Regions from separate parts of the Homo sapiens genome. Here all the other regions are reported to be linked to region 1. Evidence: microRNA targets listed by miRTarBase, many of them from high-throughput screens and not tested one by one. Region 1 holds a microRNA gene; each other region holds the end of a gene's coding sequence.

Evidence for each region. Region 1 holds the annotated microRNA hsa-miR-8057 (GUGGCUCUGUAGUAAGAUGGA, at 2,647-2,667, opposite strand). A microRNA usually pairs through its seed, bases 2 to 8, with sites in the 3' UTR of a target mRNA and lowers its output. Matches are read on the target gene's strand: a 7mer-m8 pairs with bases 2 to 8, a 7mer-A1 pairs with bases 2 to 7 and ends in A, and an 8mer does both.
Region 2: the mRNA of ZNF502 is a reported target of hsa-miR-8057. Seed matches in the 3' UTR shown: 8mer at 4,418-4,425.
Region 3: miRTarBase lists ANP32B as a target of hsa-miR-8057. Seed matches in the 3' UTR shown: 8mer at 4,471-4,478.
Region 4: miRTarBase lists ZNF786 as a target of hsa-miR-8057. Seed matches in the 3' UTR shown: 7mer-A1 at 1,187-1,193.

Annotation. Positions count from the first base shown.
Region 1 is chr18:26,588,859-26,595,356 of GRCh38, forward strand. It overlaps MIR8057 (microRNA 8057), which reads right to left and starts at 2,677; the gene lies at 2,609-2,677. It also overlaps a transcript of KCTD1 not described here.
Region 2 is chr3:44,721,964-44,727,396 of GRCh38, reverse strand. It overlaps ZNF502 (zinc finger protein 502), which reads right to left. Exons shown (of 3, transcript NM_001134442.3): 3 at 3,566-5,433. The coding sequence ends at 4,945. It overlaps LOC105377056 (a long non-coding RNA gene), which reads left to right. Exons shown (of 3, transcript XR_940788.4): 2 at 1,527-1,718. Among named protein-coding and RNA genes, the nearest start is that of ZNF501, 5.0 kb to the left of the region's middle.
Region 3 is chr9:98,013,537-98,020,034 of GRCh38, reverse strand. It overlaps ANP32B (acidic nuclear phosphoprotein 32 family member B), which reads right to left. Exons shown (of 7, transcript NM_006401.3): 7 at 4,092-4,671. The coding sequence ends at 4,604. Among named protein-coding and RNA genes, the nearest start is that of ANP32B, 33 kb to the right of the region's middle.
Region 4 is chr7:149,067,044-149,071,043 of GRCh38, reverse strand. ZNF786 (zinc finger protein 786) reads left to right here. Exons shown (of 4, transcript NM_152411.4): 4 at 1-1,403. The coding sequence ends at 621. Among named protein-coding and RNA genes, the nearest start is that of ZNF786, 22 kb to the left of the region's middle.

The DNA of each region.
Region 1 (6,498 bases):
ATCGAATGCAAAGCCCTAATATATACAGTATAGAGCAGTGTGTTGCTTTGGATGAAATATGGAAGAGGTCCATGCGGCTTGGCTTACTTAAGCATGAACTCAGATCCCTAGGCTCCCAGGAAGAGTGGAGGAAACCCACTGATCTAACTGCAAACAATCAGCAGAGCAGGGATAAATACTCTCTAAGGATCCCTCTCCTAGGCATATGTGTAGGGGGAATGGAGGATATGAAGGGAGATACCTGCATGAGGCGACCTCATAATTAAAGGCTCTGTCTAGACCTGTGGCTGTGGGATAAGACCTGGGGGAGGACAGGATGGTAACGTGAATGTGAGTGAGGGCAACAGAGAGACAAGACTCGGGCCTGTGGCTCAGATTTTCAGTCTTGGACCTTGGGTTGGCCACTGGCCACAGGAGGACATTTAGAAAGAGTGAAGAATGAATAACAACATTAACTGAGCATTTATTATATGCAAGCCATTCAGTTAAGCACTTTCCACGAATGGTCTTGTTTCATCCTCATGAAACCTCTATGGGATTTTATGACTTTCCACATTTTATGGAAACAGAATTCAAGAAATTAAGTAACTGGAGCAAAGGGGCATAGGTCTCAGTGGTGGGCCAGGCTATCTGAAATTCTCAGTGTAAAGCCAGTTATATAAAGTCTTTCAGACTTTAAATAAACTTGAAAAGGGTTATCAAAGACATCACAACAATGCTTTCAAAGTATCTTGGCTACTGTGGTAGTTACTATCAATGGCCTAGCCGTTGGCCACTCTCCTTTCTTTCTTGCTAACAGAACCCCATTTTTATTCAGATATCTGGTGGCTGTGTGCATCAAGGAAGGTTAGACCCCTCCCTAGCCCCAGTGGGTCAACCTTGACTGGTATAAGCACAGCATGGTGATTCCATCCCCTGCCAGAAATGAGCACACAAGGCAATTCTGGCCAGTGAGAGAGAAAGGGAAGTTTACTGGGAGACTACTATTATATGTGTCTGCTGATAAAGGGATGCATGGGAAGAAACAGCATCTTCTCTGACTTCATGAAGTCATAACTACATGTGATACCCAGATTATTGGCAGCCACCTTGTGAGCACAAGGGGAGTCGATCTGAGAAGGCAGAACTGAAAGGAGGTAATGCTTCTGTTGTTAAGTTGCCAAATTAGTGAATCCTGGAACAGCCCTATCTCTGTACTTCATAAGTGAATGCGTTATTTTATTTTATTTTATTTATTTTATTTTTGAGACAGTCTTACTGTGTCGCCCAGGCTGGAGTGCAGTGGCATGATCTCAGCTCACTGCAACCTCTGCCTCCTGGGTTCAAGCAGTTCTCCTGCCTCAGCTTCCTGAGTAGCTGGGGTTACAGGCACATGGCACCACACCTGGCTCATTTTTTTTTTTTCACTTTAGTAGAGATGGGGTTTCACCGTGTTGGCCAAGCTGGTCTCAAACTCCTGATCTCAAATGATCTGCCTGCCTTGGCTACCCAAAATGCTGGGATTACAGGCATGAGCCACCGTGCCCGGCTGTGAATGCATTTTGCTCATTTATTAGAAATGTATTAGACCATTTCTGAGTCTGTTATTATTAGTGGCCCAAAGCATCCTAAGCAAATTGTGACTTATATTGCCCTATCTATTTAGAAAGGTCGCTGATCAAGCGATACCTTAAAACGTATGGTTGTTTTGTTTTAGCAAGGCTTCTCTTAGAAAATATAAACTTAACCAGGCCTTCTTTTCTGCTTGTGTGGTACAGTTTTACCTGCTGAAAAATGAATAGCTATTTGCACAGCAATGTTAAAAGGTTACATGATGCAACTGCAAATATTCACTTATTTAGGCTATTGTTTACGTTCCATTATGGATGAAAACTGCCTATATGCATTTTTGGTATTTCTAACTCCAGAAATCTGGATGTATTATACACATGAAGTATCACATTTTATCTTGTGTTCAAGAGATTCTGGCTAGGTCCTACATGGTATCTCTTACAGGGACTAATTTTAAATAAAAACTAATAATTTTTTTCTAAAGGTTTCCATGCCTAATAGTCCTGATGGTGAACCCCAAATCATTGCTGCTTGTTTGACACACCAGGAATGCTTATTACTTATTATATACACTAAGGAGAATATGAAGATCAGTGGTTCAGATTAGATAATGTATATGAAAATCACTGAATTTTTTTTTCAATTGAGTCAGGGTCTTGCTCTGTTGCTCAGGCTGGAGTGCAGTGGTGCAATTATAGCTTGAACTCCTGGCCTCAAGCCATCCTCCTGCCTCAGCCTCCCATGCAGCTGAAACTACAAGTACATACCACTACACCAGCTAATTATTATTATTTTTTCCATAGAGACAGGGTCTCACCTTGTTGTCCAGGCTGGTCTCAAACTCCTGGCTCCAAGCAGTCCTCCTGCCTTGGCCTACCAAAGCGTTGGGATTACAGGCATGTGCCACCATGCAGGGCCTGAAAATACTTTAAATAACTAAATTATTTTCAATCTCCTTTACTCATCTTTTAAGGATAATTTCATCCTTTCAGGAAGGGTTACTGAGATACAAGATAAAGCATGTTGCTCAAGGTCTCCCGACTACTACTACTACTAATAATTTAAAAAGGCCCTGAGCTGGGATTGAACCGCAAGTCCATCTTACTACAGAGCCACATCCCAAATTCTTTTCAAGGTGCAGGGATTTCCCCAAGGCCTTCACCATGGCCACCTTCCTGCAGAAATTGCAATACGTACTAAACTGCTCAAAAGGTGTGCAAAAGGAGAGGGTGGAAGCAACAGACCTCCATACTGTACATACACAGAGTAAGCTGTACAAATTTTCTAGTTACCCTTAAGTCCTGCCTAAGGCAATCAAATAAACAATCTTGGGACACTAAATTATCTAATTCGAACCACCGAACTTTATATTCCTCTTGGTGTATATAATAAATAAATTAGCACTCCTGGTGTGTCAAACAAACCAGCCATGATTTGGAGTTTACCATCAGGACTGTTAGACATGGAAGCATTTTTAAAAAATCAGTTTTTGTGTAAAATTAGTCCCTGTAAGAGATACAATGTGGGACCTAGCCAGAATCTATTGAACACATGATACAATACTATTTTTAACATTAGAGCATAAATCATGCACTGTCTAGTTACTGTGTAAGTAACTACAACTACTAGTTACTTTGTTAGTCTAGTAACAACTTCTGACACCTGGGCATATTCATGAAAGTCTTTACCATGTGTAATAAAGGCTCATACAGAGCTTCGTCACTACAAATTATGAGAATTAAGGTCTCAGTTCCCATCTCTTAAGAGTAGAATTGTCTAATTCTTAAAACCATACTTGAAAAAAATCCCTTATGATACAAAAAGTTAGAAACAGTTTTTTTCTTTACCAGAAAAATAATTTAAATAATCTTTCAAATTATGTAGTTCTTCTGCAGTGAAGTGTAAGAAGATGACAGTGAAATGGCAACATATGCTTTGCTGAGAAAATCAGGAAAAAGAGGAAAAACTCAGAATTCTGCAGTCGCTTTGGGATTGTTCATTTACAATAGTTCCATGGCTACCATCACCAAGCTGTGGGGTCTGTGCCCATCATTCCATGTCCTCCAATCTCTAGTTCTCCCCACAGCATCTGTTCAGGGGTTTCTACCTTGCATGCATACTCACCTCTATTCAGCCCCGCCTAGTAAACCATCACAGTCGATGCTGATGGCCCATCCAACATGAGCCCTATATGTTCTTGCCCTTCTCTACTCCAAAGATCTTGACTTCCATCCAGTTCAGCAACCCACCCCCATGACCACATCCTTGACTTTGTCTTCAGTGGGAAGTGCTCCAGCTCTGAAAACTTAAGCATTATAATCCCCTTTGCTCTGTAACCTTCCATTTTCTACCTTTCTTATGTCCCTGGAAGCAGCTAATCTAATGGGGAAATGGGGGCAAGTTTTAGAAGCAGAGATCTGGGTTTAAAAGTTGGCTCTGCCACTTGCTGGCTGTGTGACCTCAGGTAAATTATATTTCTGAGCCTTATATTCTTTGTCTGTGACATAGTATTTTGCAGGATTGTAAGGTGGGCTGCATATGACTGAAAGCACCTAGCAACACAGCTGATGCTCAGTGAAGCTAATTTCTCCCCTTCCCTCCCGCTTCCTCACACCTATTAACTTTATTGTTCAATCTCACAGAGAATGCTGGTCTCTCCAGTCTCTCGTCCCCCTCTGGGCTTCAAGGTCAGTCATTTCATTTCTCTGATGTTCCACCACATGGCTCAGGTTAACACCAAGCTTGGGACAATGCACCACTTCCATGCTTCACTCTTGCTCTTGGACTGCCCAGAACATTTAGCTTGGCCAGGGAGGCCCTGCACATTTCTGTTTCTGAAGCTTCTCATAAGGGAGGAGGAGGAGGAAGACAAGGAGGAGGAGGAGCAATATGAGGAGAAGGAAGAGGAGGAGGAAGAGGAGGAGGAAGAGGAGGAAGAGGAGGAGGAGGAAGAGGAGGAGGAGGAAGAGGAGGAGGAAGAAGAGGAGGAGGAAGATGAGGAGGAGAAGGAAGAAGATGAGGAGGAGGAGGAAGACAAGGAGGATGAGGAGGAAGACAAGGAGAAGGAGGAGGAAGAAGACAAGGAGGAGGAGGAAGATGAGGAGGAGGAAGAAGACAAGGAGAAGGAGGAGGAAGAAGACGAGGAGGAGGAGGAGGAGGAAGACAAGGAGCAGGAGGAGAAGGACAAGGAGGGAGAAGGAAGACAAGGAGGAGGAGGAAGATGAGGAGGAAGAGAAGGAAGAGGAGGAAGAGGAGGAGGAGGAAGATGAGGAGGAGGAGGAAGAAGATAAGCAGGAGGAGGAAGATAAGGAGGAGGAGAAAGATGAGGAGGAGGAAGACAAGGGGCAGGAGGAGAAGGACAAGGAGGGAGGAGGAAGATAAGGAGGAGGAGGAAGACAAGGAGCAGGAGGAGAAGGACAAGGAGGGAGGAGGAAGACAAGGAGGAAGAGGAGAACAAGGAGGAAGAGGAAGATAAGGAGGAGGAGGAGGAAGATGAGGAGGACGAGGAGGAAGATGAGGAGGAGAAAGAAGAGAAGGGGGGGAGAAGCAGTCAAAACAGGATTATAAAAAGAGTGGAATATTTTATGTTTAGAGGAAATACCCCAACCCCATCCTTGATGCCTTCACTTATGTGGAAGAAGAAATCACATTAGCATAACAAGTGGCATGATTTACCATCTTGTTGAGCTTGAAGGAGCTGGGCTTGGACAGCTCCTCTTCTGCTCTCCAGGCATTTCTCTGTGATCTTCTACTCCATGGTCTAGAAGGGTTGCTCCTTCCTCCTCCTGCTAGGGAAGGCTTAGGTCAAGAGCTGCCAGTGACTGGGAGGGGAAGTTAGCCTAAATCAGTAGAGTATTAGGAAGATCACTTGTCTGCAAATGTATGCTGCATTCTCTAAAATAAGCTTATTTAGTAATATAGGTAAACTTTTGGCATTTGTGTACAGACTTATTTCTTAATTGATGTCTAGAAGTCAGGTGGAGGAGAGAAGTGATTTTTGTTGGGTCTCCTTAAAATCCTAAAGTTTATATTTAACAAATTAAGTCTTTTAAAGTTAAGAATATAGTGCACATATAATTGTGCTGTTCCTATGACAGAGAAATTAAGACAAAAATCACAGTAAACCCTAGGTGAGGGGATCCAGGTAACTGCAGCACAAATGCGTTGCAATCAGAGAGTATCTGCTCCTTTCAAGCCTGTTACTGGATCTGCAGGCCCTGGTGATGGCTAACTTTATGTCAACTCAGCTAGGCTGCGGTGCCCAAATGTCTGGTCAACCAACAGTCTAGACGCTGCTGAGAAGATATTTTGGAATGAGATTAACATTTAAATCAGTGGAGCAGATTACCCCCCATCATGTGAGTGGGCCTCATCCAGTCAGTGGAAGGCCTTTAGAGAAACGATTGAGGCCCCCAGGAAGCAGGAATTCTATCTCCAGGCTGTTTTTGGACTCTGGGCTGCAACATCAACAACTTCCAGCCCACCTGCCAGACCTGCAGATTTGGGACTTAGCAGCCCTCATAATTATGTGAGCCAATCCCTTAGAATAAATATCTCTCTCTCCATTTTCCTCTCCCCCAACTCCTCCCCTCTCCCTCTCCCACTTTTCCTCTCCCCACTCTTCTGCTCTTTATCTCTCTCCTCTCTTCATCTAATTGATTCTGTATCTCTGGAGAACTCTGACTCATACAGACCCTTTTCCTCGATGTATAACTCTATTTAGACATTAAGTTGAAAGTCTAAATTTAGGGCTTGATGAATGATTTCAGGCCTGGCACAAGGGGCTTCCTCACTACCCCCTACCCCATTCCTGTGATAGGTCCTGAGCATCACCATACATTTCTTATTTCCAACTTCACCTCAGCCCTCAGTTTCCTTAGAATTCCTTCATTCTTCTCTGATATGGCAGAAGCCACAAGTGCATCTCTAGTAACCTGTCTCCATTCT
Region 2 (5,433 bases), not on the chromosome of region 1:
GAGCTCCTCACATCCTCAGGATAAGGAAAAGATTGGAGCACTAAGTGGTCAATTCTAGGCTGGATGCAGTGGCTCAGGCCTGTAAGGGAGTCCGAGTTAGGAGGATCATCTGAGGGCAGGAGTTAGAGATGAGCCTGGGTAACATAGCAAGAATCTGTCTGTACCAAAAAATAATATTAAAAAACTTTTTTTTGAGACAGACTCTCACTCTGTCACCCAGGCTGGAGTGCAGTGGCATGATCTTGGCTCACTGCAACCTCTGCCTCCTGGGTTCAAGCAATTCTCCTGCCTCAGTCTCCTTAGTAGCTGGGATTACAGGCACGCGCCACCATGCCTGGCTAATTTTCATATTTTTAGTAGAGACGGGGTTTCACCATGTTGGTCAGGCTGGTCTCAAACTCCTGACCTTGTGATCCGCCTGCCTTGGCCTCCCAAAGTGCTGGGATTACAGGCGTGAGCCACCGCACCCGGCCAGAGAATACTTTTTAAAAATTAGCCAGGCATGGTAGCTCACGCCTGTAGTCCCAACTGCTTGGGAGGCTGAGGTGAGAGAATCGCTTGAGCCTGGGAGGTCTAGGCTACAGTGAGCTAGGATCACGCTACTGCACTCCAGCCTGGGCAACAGACCGAAACCATCTCAGAAACAAAAAAAAGTAGTCAGTTCTATAAAAAATAAAGAGGCATATGGAATAGAGGTATGACCAATACAGGGAAAAGTAAATGAAATGCAAGGACACTGCAGTTTAAACCTCATCTGACACTGGTTGTGTGGTCTTGAGCAACCCCAACATCTTTTCTCTTTTGTTCTGAGGATCTGACGTGGCTCCATCTGTGTCCTTCTAAAGTCATGAATTAAATTTCAGTGCACAATAAGCAAGACACTCAAATTCTTTATCATCCCAGGGCCCAAAATCTCAGGAAGTGCTTCCACTTTGGTACTTTTTTTTTTTTTTTTTTTTTTTTTTTTTTTTTTTTTAAGAGAGAGGGTCTCACTCTCTGATACGCAGGCTAGAGTGCAGTGGCATGATGCTAGCTCACTGCAGCTCCCAACACCTGGGCTCAAGCGATCCTTCCACCTCAGGCTCAGCATCCAGAATAGCTAGGACTACAGGCATGCACCACCATACCTGGTTTATTTATTTATTTATTTATTTATTTATTTATTTTTTTTAGACAAGGTCTTGTTATGTTCCACAGGATGCTCTTGAACTCCTGGCCTGAATCAATCCTCCCACCTCAGACTCCTGAGTAGTTGGGATTACAGGTGCAAGCCACCATGCCTGGCCCAGTTTGGGATTTGTAAACTGCAAATGCCCTCCTGCTAGGCCAGCATTACTCTTCAGTTCCTGCTATTTCATAGGTATTCCAGTTGACACAGGTGTGTTTCTGCAGTTGCATGCATTTTCCTCCTGTTGACCCTGACATCAATATAATTGAAAGCGTTTAGTTAAATTGTGATAGGACTTTTAAATCTCTAATTGAAAAATATTGTTTCTTATGGGATCTTCTGTTTAATACAATCTTAGGGAAAGTTTCAGAACTGTTGCTCCTGGCAGACACTTCGTGGACACGCATACTCACCATGCCTCCTTCCTGCTGACAACTGGGGACTTAAGTCACAACCTGCAGACTAGCACAGAGAAATGTCTGACTCTTCAGTTGAGTTCAACAAATGCTTATTGAGCACCTCCTAAGTACCAGGCACTGTTGATACAAAGGTAAAGAAATTTCACATTGTTCCTTCCCTAGCAAAGCTGACAAAGGGAAAGATGTGTGAACAAACCATTATAATGTAACATAATAAAATGATGAAAAATACAAGACAGAATAAAAAATACATGAGGTTAGAGACAGCTTTGAGATATTGCCTGAGCACACTCGTAAGTGAAAAATGGGAGTTTTGCAGGCAAGCAGAAGCAGGGAAAAGGAACTGAGGCAATAGGAACACTATGTGCGGAAGTGCCAAAATAGAGTCCAGAGGTGATATTCCAGAATCACAGGAATTTGAACTATGGAATAGAACATGCCAGGCAAGGAATGGCAGCTAAGGATGGCAATTCAGGCATGGGTCAGATGAGGGGCCTCACCTGCCTCTTTAAAGGACTAGTGCTTTATTCCGAAAACAATAAGCAGCCAGTTATGCTTATAAAGATCAAGAAGAAATGTGAAAGATGGCCTAGTGGGGCAAGAAACTGGAAGACTGGTAGATAAATTTTAAAATAGGAAGTCCAGGCACAGTGGCTTATGCCTATAATCCCAGCACTTTGGGTGGCTGAGGCAGGCAGATTGCTTGAGCCCAGGAGTCCGAGACCAGCCTGAGCAACATGGTGAAACCCATCACTACAAAAAAATATAAAAATTAGCCAAGGATAGTGGCACATGCCTGTAGTCCCAGCTATTTGGGAGGCTGAAATGGGAGGATCGCTTGAGCCTGGGAGGTGGGGGTTTGCAGTAAGCAGAGACCATGCCATTGCATTCCAGCCTGGACAACAGAGTGAGATCCTGTCTCAAAAAAAAAAAATTAAAATTAAAAATAAAATAGTCTAGAAAATAAATTAGGGAGTAGGGGACTGGACTACAATAACTGCAGTGGAGATGGCTTCCAGAGATAGGAGATAACTTCAACAGGACATAGTGGTTGAATGGATATGAAGATTGAATAAGAGGGAAAACTGAGGGTGAGGGCAATGACTAGGTTTGGGGCCATGCTGGAGAGACTAGGTACATCATGGGCCAGCAACTGAGAGAAAATCGGGAGCACATAAGTCCAAGTGTAAGAATATGGGGTCAGGGTAGTGGAAAGAACAGTTATTTAACTGTTTCCCCAGAAGGTAAAAACATGCCATATTTTCTCAGCCTGAGAAAAATTCAGGATCAAGTCTGTTTCACTTGAGAAAATCTTTCCCACAAGAACTTATGGATATCATTTTTTTTTTTTTTTCTAGAAAAAGTCTCACTCTGTCTCCCAGGCTGGAGTGCACAGGCACAATCTCGGCTGGCTGCAGCCTCCACCTCCCAGGTTCAAGTGATTCTTGTGCCTCAGCCTCCTGAGATATCTTTAAAGTTTTCTTGTTTCTTTCTTAAGAAAACTCTCCCTATTCTAATCTCCACTCATAATTCTCAAGATGGTGTACAAATATTGCTATAAATAACTATTCATCAGGAAGTTCCAAGAAAGGTTCTGTTGGGCAATAGTTGATATAACTCATGAAATAAATATTTACTGAACATGTATTATGTGCCAGTAATTAATTATGCAGTTTTTATCTAGGAGGTATAAATACATTTTTGCTTTTGGTAAAATAATATTTTCACAAACATATTTAGAAAGGTTTTACAGCATTATTTTTACCCATAGTGTATTAATTTTCTCAATTATGACTTCACTGGTGGTAGGTTTTAAGAACATAATCTTCATAGAAAGTGAAAAAGATATATATTTATACCATACTCCCATTAATGGTAATTCATGGCCCAAACCTATCCCTACAAGGCAACTGCTCTAGAAAAAAAAAAAAAAAACAAAAACAAAAAAAAAAAACGATGAGTTCCAAATAACCAAGCATTCCAGAATCAACTTAGTGTTTTTAATAGCCATACTTTAAAAATGCTATAAGCTTCACAGCTTAGAAATTATTTTAAATACCAATCAAAGGCTATCCTCAATCTTCTGAAGCTCAATTTCTGGGTAGCAGTTAAGAACATGAAAGGAATTTGGGAAATAAAGGGAAAACTATGTCATTTCTCTCAAAAGAATAAAACACTGTCACAGTCAGTAGCAAAATGTGCTATCCTGATTTTCAGGGATTTGAAAAAGATTCTTTTAGAAGTCTTTCCAAAGTCATTCCACGACAAATGTCAACTTTCTTAAGAGCCCCAATGTCCAACCAAGTGAAAATTCTTTCTTCTTTCATTACTAATGCTTTCTCCTAAAGACCAACAAACTAAGTACCATTTTGTTAGGACATTGTTAGTCCTAGTGTGTCTCTCTCCTCTGGTCTCTGTACACCAACAGCCTAGGCAAACTTACAATAGACAGGTGTACACCTTAGTACAGGCAGGGTTATGTAGGTGACTTGCTCAGTCACATGCAGGCTTCCTGTTCTGAGTCTTATCACTCTAGCAGACCATTTCTTTCCTGGGTAACCATATTTCCTCTGAGATAGATATTGAGTCTTCCTGGTTCTCTGAACAGGTATGACTGCCTCCCCATAAACCAGTATCATGAATTCTAACTTGGTCTCCTATTTCATTCTTAGCTCTGAGTCACCTCAAAGCTTGGAAGAATCAGGAAAGACCTTCACCCTGATAATGAAAGAAAGCCTTCTTTACTGGCAGATCTATAGAGGTCAGCCCAGTTGTTGCTTTATATCTCATTTTTTTAATGAATGGATATGGATTTTTTTTTTTTTTTTTTTTGGCTCTTACTTGTTTCTGTCTCCTTTTCACAGGACCACTTCCACAGGTTGGGAGCCTCCCCCATGGTAGCATGGTCAGGGCTGCCTCAAATCTGGAGGCTAGACTTAGCACTACATCAGAGCTGTGCCACTTCACACTGACAGGCAGTGTTTAAGAAAAACATCTCAACCTGCCAGCCAACGAAAATGGGTGACAAGTCAGAATGTGGGGCAGGATGTAGTAAAGTGAACAGAAGTGCTAACAAATGCCTCCTCAAGCTGTAAGAGTCACATGGGGAGACAGTGGCAATGTGTAGGCTTTATCTGAAAAGCAGGAATTTCTTTCTACCCTGTATTCCCAGATGCCCACCTCAAGTAGGCTCTGCATTCCCTAAGCTCCCACCTCCATTTCTGGAAACATTCCTCTCAGAGTACAGTAGCCAAGGCTCCTTCATCCTTCCCTCCAGGAACTCTACCTGCCCCTCTACTCCCAGTCAGATTCGTAGTCATCCTCGCTAGAGAAACTGTCATAACCTAAATGGCAGCATTAGTCACCACTGTGAAGTTTCTGATGTCTGAAAAGGACTGAACTATGTCTGAAGAACTTTCCACACTCAATACACTCATAAGGCTTCTCACCAGTGTGAATTCTGTAATGTTCACTAAGGTGTGCATACTTGCGGAAGGTTTTCTCACACTCACTACATTTATAGAGCTTCTCACCAGTGTGAGTTCTATGATGTTCAGTAAGAGATGAGCTATGAGCAAAGGCTTTCCCACATTCTTTACATTTATAGGGCTTCTCTCCAGTATGAATTCTCATATGCTGAGTGAGGCAGGTGTTCTGATTAAAGCCCTTTCCACATTCATTGCATTTATAGGGTTTTTCTCCAGTGTGACTTCTCTGGTGCCGAATAAGGCAAATGCTCTGAATGAAGGCTTTACCACATTCACTGCATTTGTAGGGTCTCTCCCCTGTATGTATTCTCTGATGTTTAGTGAGTGGGGTGCTCTGAGTAAACGCTTTGCCACATTC
Region 3 (6,498 bases), not on the chromosome of region 1:
ACTCTGACAACTAGTTCTGTTCACGCCCTGTCCTGAACCTTTGGAACCAATGAGTCTTGTTAGCTAGTGTCTACTTTGCTCCCTGCTTTGGACTAAGGGAGAAATAAGTCCACTGACTTTCTCATCAGAACTGAGCCAGGAGCAAGGGCCCTAGGGAGGGATATATGGCAACATACAGCAGCTTTGGGTTTGGGCAGAGCTGGGTTTGGATCCCAGCCTGGTCATCATTACTAGCTACATGACATTGGATAGGGCACTTCACCTCTAAATCCTTCAGTTTCCACATCCATAAAAGGGGATTATAGGTTATTTTTCAGGGAAGTTGAAGACTAAATTCCTCTCAGTAAATGGCCATCAATGGCAGATGTATGTACTAACCTGCATCTGTAATGCTACTAGATGACTGACTAGTCTGGCCAACTTATGTATATACCTGTGGCAATTTCTGGAAGACACCTCCTTCACTGAAAGTGCAGCACTCATCTGGCCCCATGCTACTGGTCTATCCTTTTCAATTCCATCAGCCTAAACATAGCTCTGACATTTTCTACTAGCCCAAACCCTTACCTACTCCTTCAGAGGGTAACTGGGAGTAACGGCATGAAATACAATTAGTATTCCTATTGCTGGTTAGGCTCACGGTGAACCACATGCAGATTTGTACAGCTGAAACAACCTGCAGGCTCACTTAGCTTGGGCCTCGGAGTTTCAGTTGAGGAACTGGAGGCTCAGAGGGGAAGTGACAGAGGGGAGCAAATACCATTCAGTGGCCAGGTTGGGGCTAGAATATGATCTCTAGATTCTGTTTGAGGCCTCCCTCCCCATACCTCCACTCTTCCTCTGCCAGGGCTGGCGCTGGGGAGTGCTGTCTTAAACACAGAGACCCCAGGCCCCTCCTGGCCAGGGGTCAAGTCCCCTTAATCAGAAATAGAGTTAACTCTGGCCAGGTGCAGTGGCTCATGCCTGTAATCCCAGCACTTTGGGAGTTCAAGTCAGGAGGATCACTTGAGCCCAGGGGTTTGAAACCAGCCTGTGCAACATAGTGAGACCTCATCGCTACCAAAAATATTTAGCCAGGCATGGTGGCACGCACCTATAGTCCCAGTTACTCAGCTGAGGTGGGAGGATTGTTTGTGCCCAGGTCGAGCATGCAGTGAACCATGATTGTGCCAGTGTATTCCAGCTTGGGTGACAGAGTCAGACCGTCTCCAACAACAAAAAGCAATAGAATAAGGGTATTTTCTCCATATGCCCTCCCAACACCCCTGGGACAAGTTATAAAATACCCACTTGATCAGAGATTATTAAGCTGACCTAATTGGCTCTGAGGACTTCCACACTCACTGCAATCTTGGTGATTTTCCTGCAGAGCAACTGTTTGGCTGGCTGCAGCTTAAGTCTACTAGTAACTTGATTCCCTTTCCAAACTGTCAACACGGCGGTATCATCAGGCTCATTAAAATTGATGGCAGCACAATGCAACAGAGCTGGAGAAAACTGGAAGGTCATAGCATAGTGTACAACCACTTTGTGCTTCTGTCTCACCTTTCTCTGGCGATGGGGTAGGTAGTGTAGCCCAGATAGGAATGCCAGGAACAGGACGACTCAACTCTCCTGTATCTGTCCTGGAGTATGTACCAGGAGTCCTGGTGGTGGTGATACAGGAGCGGGTAGGGTGCAGTATCTTACACAAGGTGGTTTGTGCATTTCCACGCTGGCCACTATCATTCTTCAGGTGCTGGACTCCTGAAAGAGGAGTGAACTAAAGGTAAGAGCAGAGGTTGAAAACAGGGCGCCATGGACCGGGCACAGTGGCTCACACCTGTAATTCTGGCACTTTGGGAGGCCAAGGTGGGTGGATCACCTGAGGTCAGGAGAGTTCAAGACCAGCCTGACCAGTATGTTGAAACCTCGTCTCTACTAAAAATACAAAAATTAGCCAGGCGTGGTGGCGGGCGCCTGTAGTCCCAGCTACTCGGGAGGCTGAGACAGGAGAATTGCTTGAACCCAGGAGGCGGAGGTTGCAGTGAGCCAAGATTGTGCCACTACATGTCAGCCTGGGCGACAGCGAAGACTCCCATCTCAAAAAAAAAAAAAAAAGAAAAAAGAAAATAGCTTCAAAAAGATGGCATACCAATGTATCACACATGTAGGTGTGTATGTAGAACACACCTCCACCAACCTCGGAGCAGCTAGTCAGGACCAGTCATCTAGCCCATCATAGCTGCCACCCAGCTCAGACATTTTATAACTAAACTTACTGCAGAAGCTGGAAGCAAACCCTCTCAATGTTCTCCTTCAGATGGGAGACAACTCCAAAAATAGTCTGCTGTGTGACCTCATCACCAAACAGCTTGCTTCTCTGAGGACCATGTCAAAGGCATCTTCACTGGCCACATACAGGTGACATCAATATTTTACTATAATGCACAAAAAGGCTTTGACCTTCAAGGCCCCCTACAAGAGCCCAAATGACTTGTCCAGTATTATCATCTATTCATGTGTTGTCAAATCTACTTGTATCTAACTGTACTCAGCAGTTTCCTACCTTTAACCTCTGCTCACCAAGATACTCCCTTCTCTCTCTATTCCTATTTATAGACGCTATTCACACTTGCATGTGCAGCTGAAGTACTTTCTTTTCTAAGAAGCTTCCCTCCCTCCAGGTTGGGTGCCATCTCTCCAGCCTCTGAGCTACACTAAAACTTACCTAAACCTCTTGCTCCTAGGTCCTAGTAAATATTACTTGTGTTGATGTCTTTTCTTCCTGACTAGTTACTATGAGCACCAAGGGCTGGCTTGTCTTTTTAACCCAATTCCCTTCCCTTTTGCCCAGCCAATAAGCCTGGCATATCCTACAGGCTTGGTAGATACTGGGAAGTTCTGTAAACTTTAAAAAACAACTAAAAACAACAACAACAACAACAAACCGGGAAAAATAATCACTCAAAGTTACTGTGTTTGATATTTGACAAATAAGCAAAACCTTAAGGACACACTTAGGCTACAGAAGAAACCATTTTACAATGTATTGAAGGTTTGCCAAAATGGCCTTATGGTTGGGGAAAATGATGTGTAATACCTGTAAAATCAGAAATCAAATTTTCTTGGATTTTCTTTGCAAAAAAGAAACTCCATTTTAAAGTCTATGGGAGATTTTGATTTTAAAGTACAGTATTTGGGGGCTCCATAGAGACTGTGACTTGTTATAAATTCAAATTAGATTCCAATTTTACATATTGCATTTACATGCATCAAAAACCTCACTCATTCCAGCAGCTATAAGCTAAAATTTACTGAAACAATCCTTAAATCTTCCACTATAAAAAACTGTATTGATAATGCAGTCATACATCTATTTTCGCTAAACGGTTAATCACTGAATACAGACAGAATATCCTCCTTTCTCAAATCCCTTTAAGATCTGTAAGAATAGAGAAAATTTCCATCTTATGGAAAACCTGAGTTGACCTCAGGCAGTGCCTACCCACTGCTTGGTGAGGCTTTTCACATGTCATTCCCCCTTTTCACGCCTGTCTTGGCAACAAACCATACTGTGTTCACCCATCAGTCAAACCCTACATGCTTCAGACTAGTGGAAAGCCCATTTTTCTCTTCAGACCTTCCTGTCAGCAAGGGTCACAGAACATCAGTGCTACAAGTGACTTCAGAAGCCATTTGGTCACACCCCTTCAATTTTCCAGACTGGGTGGTGACCCAGAGTCAACACAAGGTCACACAGAAAATCAGTGGCAGAGCCAGAACTAGAATTCAGATCTCTTGGGATTCTGGTGAAGGCCTTTTGCTTTACACTATCTTCTTTCCCTTAATTCACATAATACTTGAACCTAACATTTTACTGGTTTTCAGGGCCCCAGAGTATTCCATTTTGAACGTTATTTTTTAAAGTATGCTTCATTTACTCCCAGTTATCAATGAGGATTTGATCTAAATGCTCAAAGATCCTACACACTTGTGCAATTCCCCTCAACAACTACTAATATAAAAATGCCAAATAAACCAGTTCTTTGGTGTTTTAACATGAGCTTACAATGAGAGTATAATTTAAAAATGTAAGCATACAACTAGGCTTTACCAAAGAGTAACTGTTTATTTCGCTTAAATTCTTAAAAATACTTTTTTGGCAGTTGTCACATAAAATGTCCTAATGTAAAAAAAATAATAATAATAATTAAAAAGCAAAGCATGAAAAAACAGACCCAAAATGTTAAGATTTTATTTACAAAGCTTTTTTGTTGTACAGAAAGTAAAAATGCTGTTACAATCTCAGTGTAACTGGTAGCCACAGACGGTTGACTCACCAATCACAGCTATCCACGCTACAGCAAGAATCTTACACAAAAACCTAACAACGCTTACAATTTTGTTGGGGTGAAGTCCACAAGCTTGGTGGTAGATTACCAAGAGGGACTACATGGAAGGAAGGCGGAATGTCACAGGAACTATTCTTTGGCTCTTTGGGTGGGTGGGTGTCCTGGGGTTTGTATCACAGCTACCTTTTTTTTTTTTTTAAACAGCTACAAAATCCATGAGCAGTCCAACCAATACTGAACAGTTCTGTTTCTGCAGGTCATCTGGGGTCTTAATCATCTTCTCCTTCATCATCTGTTTCTCTCTTCCTCTTTTCACCTTTCCCACCTTCTTCCTCCTCTGTACAGTAACAAAAATTGACTTTAGGACAGTGGAAAGGCATTTTGCTTAGATTATTGCCAATGGAGGCAACAACAACAAAGTTTTTGACAGTTAGGAGATAAAACAATGTAAACTTGATCAGATTAATATAGGTGACTAATAGCAAGTATAAGTGGTGACCACAGAACCAAGAAAAGCAAAATGCACAGCAGCACCTCAACTCACCCAGGAAAAGTTAATCCAGTTTCCTCGATTTTAAGGTGTTGTCTTCCAAATGTTTCTTTTTACAAATCTAGCAATTATTAAAGTGCTTATTATTAACCTGAGCTGGTCAGGCCCACTGGCTCATGCCTATAATCCCAGCACTTTGGGAGGCCAAGGCAGGCAGATCACCTGAGGTCAGGAGTTCCAGACCACCCTGGCCAACATGGTGAAACTCCGTCTCTACTAAAAATACAAAAATGAGCCAGGCATGGTGGCATGTACCTGTAATCCCAGCTACTCTGGATGATGAGGCATGAGAATTGCTTGAATCCGGAAGGCGGAGGTTGCAGTGAGCTGAGATTGTGCCACTGGACTCCAGCCTGGGTGATAAGAGCGAAACTGTCTCCAAAAAAACAAAACAAAACCCCTCGTGCTATCTAGCACGTCTTCAAGACATGCTTACTTTCAAGTGATCTCAGACAAGCTTAACCTCTTTAAGCCTTTTTCATCTGTAAAATGGGGACAATGGTACTGACTTTAAAAGGTTATTCTGAGAATTAAATAACACACAAAACATAGTATGGAACATCATTAAGACTCAAATTGTAGCAAACTAATATTAACTAAAAAGGAAATTCTTAAGAGTATTATGTAGTCGAGACACAGAGACTTACATATAGACCAATTTTTTCAACTAATAAAATCCATGGTTATTTTAATGAAATTAACTATATGTTAAATCATATTTCATACAGGTTGTTTTTTTTTTTGAGACAGACTCTGGCTCCGTCGCCCAGGCTGGAGTGCAGTGGCTTGATCTCGGCTCACTGCAAGCTCCGCCTCCCGGGTTCATGCCGTTCTCCTGACTCAGCCTCCCGAGTAGCTGGGACTACAGGCGCCTGCCACCACACCCGGCTAATTTTTTTGTATTTTTAGTAGAGACGGGGTTTCACCGTGTTAGCCAGGATGGTCTCGATCTCCTGACCTCATGATCCACCCGCCTCGGCCTCCCAATCATACAGGTTCTTAAAGGCAGTGACCAGGTCCTAACCAGGGTAATATCTAGTGTAAATGTAATTGAGAGCTTGACAAAGTGGATGCTGAGAAAACATCAGCCAACAGCACAGTGAACACCTGATTTTCTGAGACACAACCATGAGACTTTTTATTTGAGACAAGGTCTCCCTCTGTCACTCAGGCTGGAGTGCGGTGGCACTATCATAGCCTCACTGCAACTTCAAGCAGTCCTCCCACCTCAGCTTCCCAAGTAGCTGGGACTATAGGTGTGCACCACCATGTGCAGCTAACTTTTTTTTTTTTTTGAGACAGAGTCTTGCTCTGTTGTCCAGGCTGCAGTGCAGTGGCATGACCTCAGCTCACTGAATCTCTGCCTCCTGGGTTTGAGTGCGTGCCACCACGCCTGACTAATTTTTTAATTTTTAGTAGAGACAGGATTTTACCATGTTGGCCAGGCTGCTCTCGAACTCCTGACCTCAGGTGATCCACCTGCCTCGGCCTCCTAAAGTGCTGAGATAACAGGCGTGAGTCACCACACCCGGTCCCAGCTAACTTTTTAATTTTCTGTACAGACAGGGTCTATGTTGTCCAGGCTGGCATACTTTCAACAGTATTAAATAAGTA
Region 4 (4,000 bases), not on the chromosome of region 1:
CAATCCAAGCTCACGGAGCACTTGCGCGTGCACAGCGGGGAGAGACCCTTCCAGTGCCCAGAGTGCAACAGGAGCTTCCGCCTGAAGGGGCAGCTGCTCAGCCATCAGCGCCTGCACACGGGAGAGAGGCCCTTCCAGTGTCCGGAGTGCGACAAGCGCTATCGCGTGAAGGCCGACATGAAGGCCCACCAGCTGCTGCACAGCGGGGAGATGCCTTTCTCCTGTGAGTGCGGCAAGGGCTTTGTGAAACACTCAAAGCTCATCGAGCACATCAGAACGCACACGGGAGAGAAGCCTTTTCAGTGTCCCAAGTGTGACAAGAGTTTCCGCCTGAAGGCGCAGCTGCTCAGCCATCAGGGCCTGCACACAGGGGAGAGGCCTTTTCACTGCCCTGAGTGTGACAAGAACTTCCGGGAAAGGGGACACATGCTGAGGCACCAGCGCATCCACAGGCCCGAGAGGCCCTTTGCCTGTGGCGATTGTGGGAAGGGCTTCATTTACAAGTCTAAGCTTGCGGAGCACATCAGAGTACACACAAAATCCTGTCCTGCTCCAAATGAACTGGACATTAAGAAAAGGCTCAGCCAACTGTTTGCAATGATAGAGGCCGATTGGAGTTGAGGCAGAGTGGGACATCCAAAGCGTTGAGCAGGATTGGTATTGCCCAGGAATCCACAGCAACAGTAGCCAGACCCGCTGGTAGACGGGTTTTAGGAGCAGGTATCCTTCTTTGAGCAAGAGTGTCATGCAAGTTAGGAATATGAAGAACCACAAAGGATTTTCTCTTCAGAAGCATCACCAATTATATTTCTTTCTTTTTTTTTTTTTTTTCCAAGATGGAGTTTTGCTCTGTCACCCAGGCTGGAGTGCAGTGGCGTGATCCCAGCTATATTGGAAAAGACAGCATTATAAAACAAGGACATAATTTTATGAAAAAGGAGGCATCTGCAAACGAAAACAATTTCTACGAGGTTATATGTGATTGTTAACATTTTTAAGAAAAGGTGCACACAGAAATCCAGATAAGATGTGATTACCTTTGTGCATTTGTATAAAAATATATGTGTGTAATTATAAGGAAGTTCTGACATTTTAAAAAGTAATTGTTATAAAAGTAAATTTAGGCCAGGCACAGTGGTTCATGCCTGTAATCCCAGCACTTGGGAGGCCGTGGCAGGAGGATCACGAGCCAAGGAGTTTGAGACCAGCTTGGGCAACATGGCAAAACCCTGTCTCTACTAAAAATACAAAAATTAGCCAGGCATGGTGGTACACACCAGTAGTCCCAGCTACTCCTGAAGCTGAGGTGGGAGGATCGCCTGAGCCCAGGGAGGTCAAGGCTGCAGTGAGCAATGATGGTGCCACTGCACTCCAGTATGGATGACATAGTATGACACTGTCTCAAAAAAAAAAAAAAAAAAATTTGGGCCAGGGGTGGTGGCTCACGCCTGTAATCCCAGCACTTTGGGAGGCTGAGGCGGGTGGATCACAAGGTCAGGAGATCGAGACCATCCTGGCAAACACAGTGAAACCCTGTCTCTACTAAAAATACAAAAAAAAAAAAAAAATTAGCCGGGTGTGGTGGCAGGCACCTGTAGTCCCAGGAGGCTGAGGCAGGAGAATGGTGTGAGCCCAGGAGGCGGAGCTTGCAGTGAGCCAAGATCAAGCCACTGCACTCCAGCCTGGGTGACAGAGCGAGACTCCGTCTCAAAAAAAAAAAAAAAACAAATTTAGTATCTCCCAAAGGAAGCTTGGCAAGTCCTTTTCATTCTCTTTAGAATTTATAGAATATAGCCTGGCGTGGTGGCTCATACCTATAATCCCATTACTTTGGGAGGTCAAGGCAGGAGGATCACTTGAGGTCAGGAGTTCAAGACCAGACTGGCCAACATGGTGAAACACCATCTCTACCAAAAAGTACAAAAATTAGCCGGGCATGGTGGCATGCACCTGTAGTCTTGGCTACGCCGGAGGCTGAGGCAGGAGAATCGCTTGAACCCCAGAGGTGGAGGTTGCATTGAGCTGGGATTGCACCACTGCATTCCAACTTGGGAGACAGAGCAAGACTCCATCTCAAAAAAATTATAGAATATATAATTAATATATAAAGATACAGAATAATATATAATTATAAATTCCTTTTTTTTTTTCTTTGAGATGGAGTCTTGCTCTGTCGCCCAGGCTGGGGTGCAGTGGCATGATCTCGGCTCACCGCAAGCTCCACCTTCCGGGTTCATGCCATTCTCCTGCCTCAGGCTCCCAAGTAGCTGGGACCACAGGCGCCCGCCACCACGCCCAGCTAATTTTTTGTATTTTTAGTAGAGACAGAGTTTCACCGTGTTAGCCAGGATGGTCTCGATCTCTTGACCTCGTGATCCGCCCGCCTCAGCCTCCCAAAGTGCTGGGATTACAGGCATGAGCCACGGTGCCGGCCTTTCTTTTCTTTTTTTTTTTTTTTTTGGAGTCTCTGTCAGCCAGCCTGGAGTACAGTGCCATGATCTTAGCTCGCTGTATCCTCCACCTCCCAAGCTCAAGTGATCCTTCTTTCTCAACCTCCTGAGTAGCTGGGACTAAAGGCGCACGCCATCACGTGCCACCATGCCTATTTTTGTATTTTTAGTAGAGACTAAAAATACAAAAAATATAAAATGTGGGCCAGGCTGGTCTTGAACTCCTGACCTCAGGTGATCTACCCACCTCAGCCTCCCAAAGTGCTGGGATTATAGGTGTGAGCCACCGTGCCCGGCCTATACTTCGCCATTTGTCTCTTAACACGGGTGCCCAAGAAGCTGCTGCTTGGGGGGCTGTATTCAATTAACACTTTTAATGTTAACAGGTGTGGACCATCAAGAGATTGTCTCTCCCTGGCTGCCGAATTCTCATTCTTAGAGAGGCAATTTGTTAATTGCTGAACCATCACCTGACATTTCTAGTGGGTCGGGAGAGAGCCCTCTGCTGCCCTGTTGATGCCTAACTACCTGTAACAATCTGATTATTGTAAGTTTTCCTGTATCCAGTATCACCTCCAATATTTATCAAGGAGTTGTGTGAAATACCACCTCACAACCAGATGAAGAATTTTATCACCACCTCCTCCAATTCCTCATGAGGGAGAAGTAGGAATTGCTCTGAGCCTAAGGTAGAAACCGTTCCTGAAATGTTGAAAACCGTCATTGTGAGTAGGTGAGTGGAGTGGTGGAGTAGTGAATCACCTGTACAATGGCACTGTCAAAAGACAAAATTACAACACATTTAGTTTAAAAATCTTAATTGGCTTATTTGGTATTCTAGAATTGAGCAACACTTCATCCCATGAAACAGAATAAGTGGCCCGGCGTGGTGGCTCACGCCTGTAATCCCAGCACTCTGAGAGGCCGAGGCGGGCAGATCACCTGAGGTCAGAAGTTCAAGACCAGCCTGGCCATGGTGAAACCCTGTCTGTACTAAAAATACAAAAAATTAGGTGGGTGTGGCAATGCGAACCTGTAATTCCAGCTACTCGGGAGGCTGAGGCGGGAGAATCGCTTGAACCCGGGAGGCGGAGGTTGCAGTGAGCCGAGATCGTGCCATTGCACTCCAGCCTGGGCAACGAGCGAAACTCGGTCTCAAAAACAAAAACAGAAAAACAGAATAAGTGTTTGGATGAGCCAGCCAAGGCGGGTTTTTTTTTTTTTTTTTAAGAAGGAGTCTCCCTCTGTCGCCCAGGCTGGAGAGCAGTGGCGCTATCTTGGCTCACTGCAACCTCCACCTCCTGGGTTCAAGCAATTCTGCCTCAGCCTCCCAAGTAGCTGGGATTACAGGTATGCGCCACCATGCCTGGCTAATTTTTTGTATTTTTAGTAGAGACGGGGGTTTCACCAGGATGGCCAGGCTGGTCTCGAACTCCTGATCTCGTGATCTGCCCACCTTGGCCTCCCAAAGTGCTGGGATTATAGGTGTGAGCCACTGCACCCGGCCCGCGGTTGGTTTTATGGACAGAAAAAGCTTGGGAAAAGCAGAA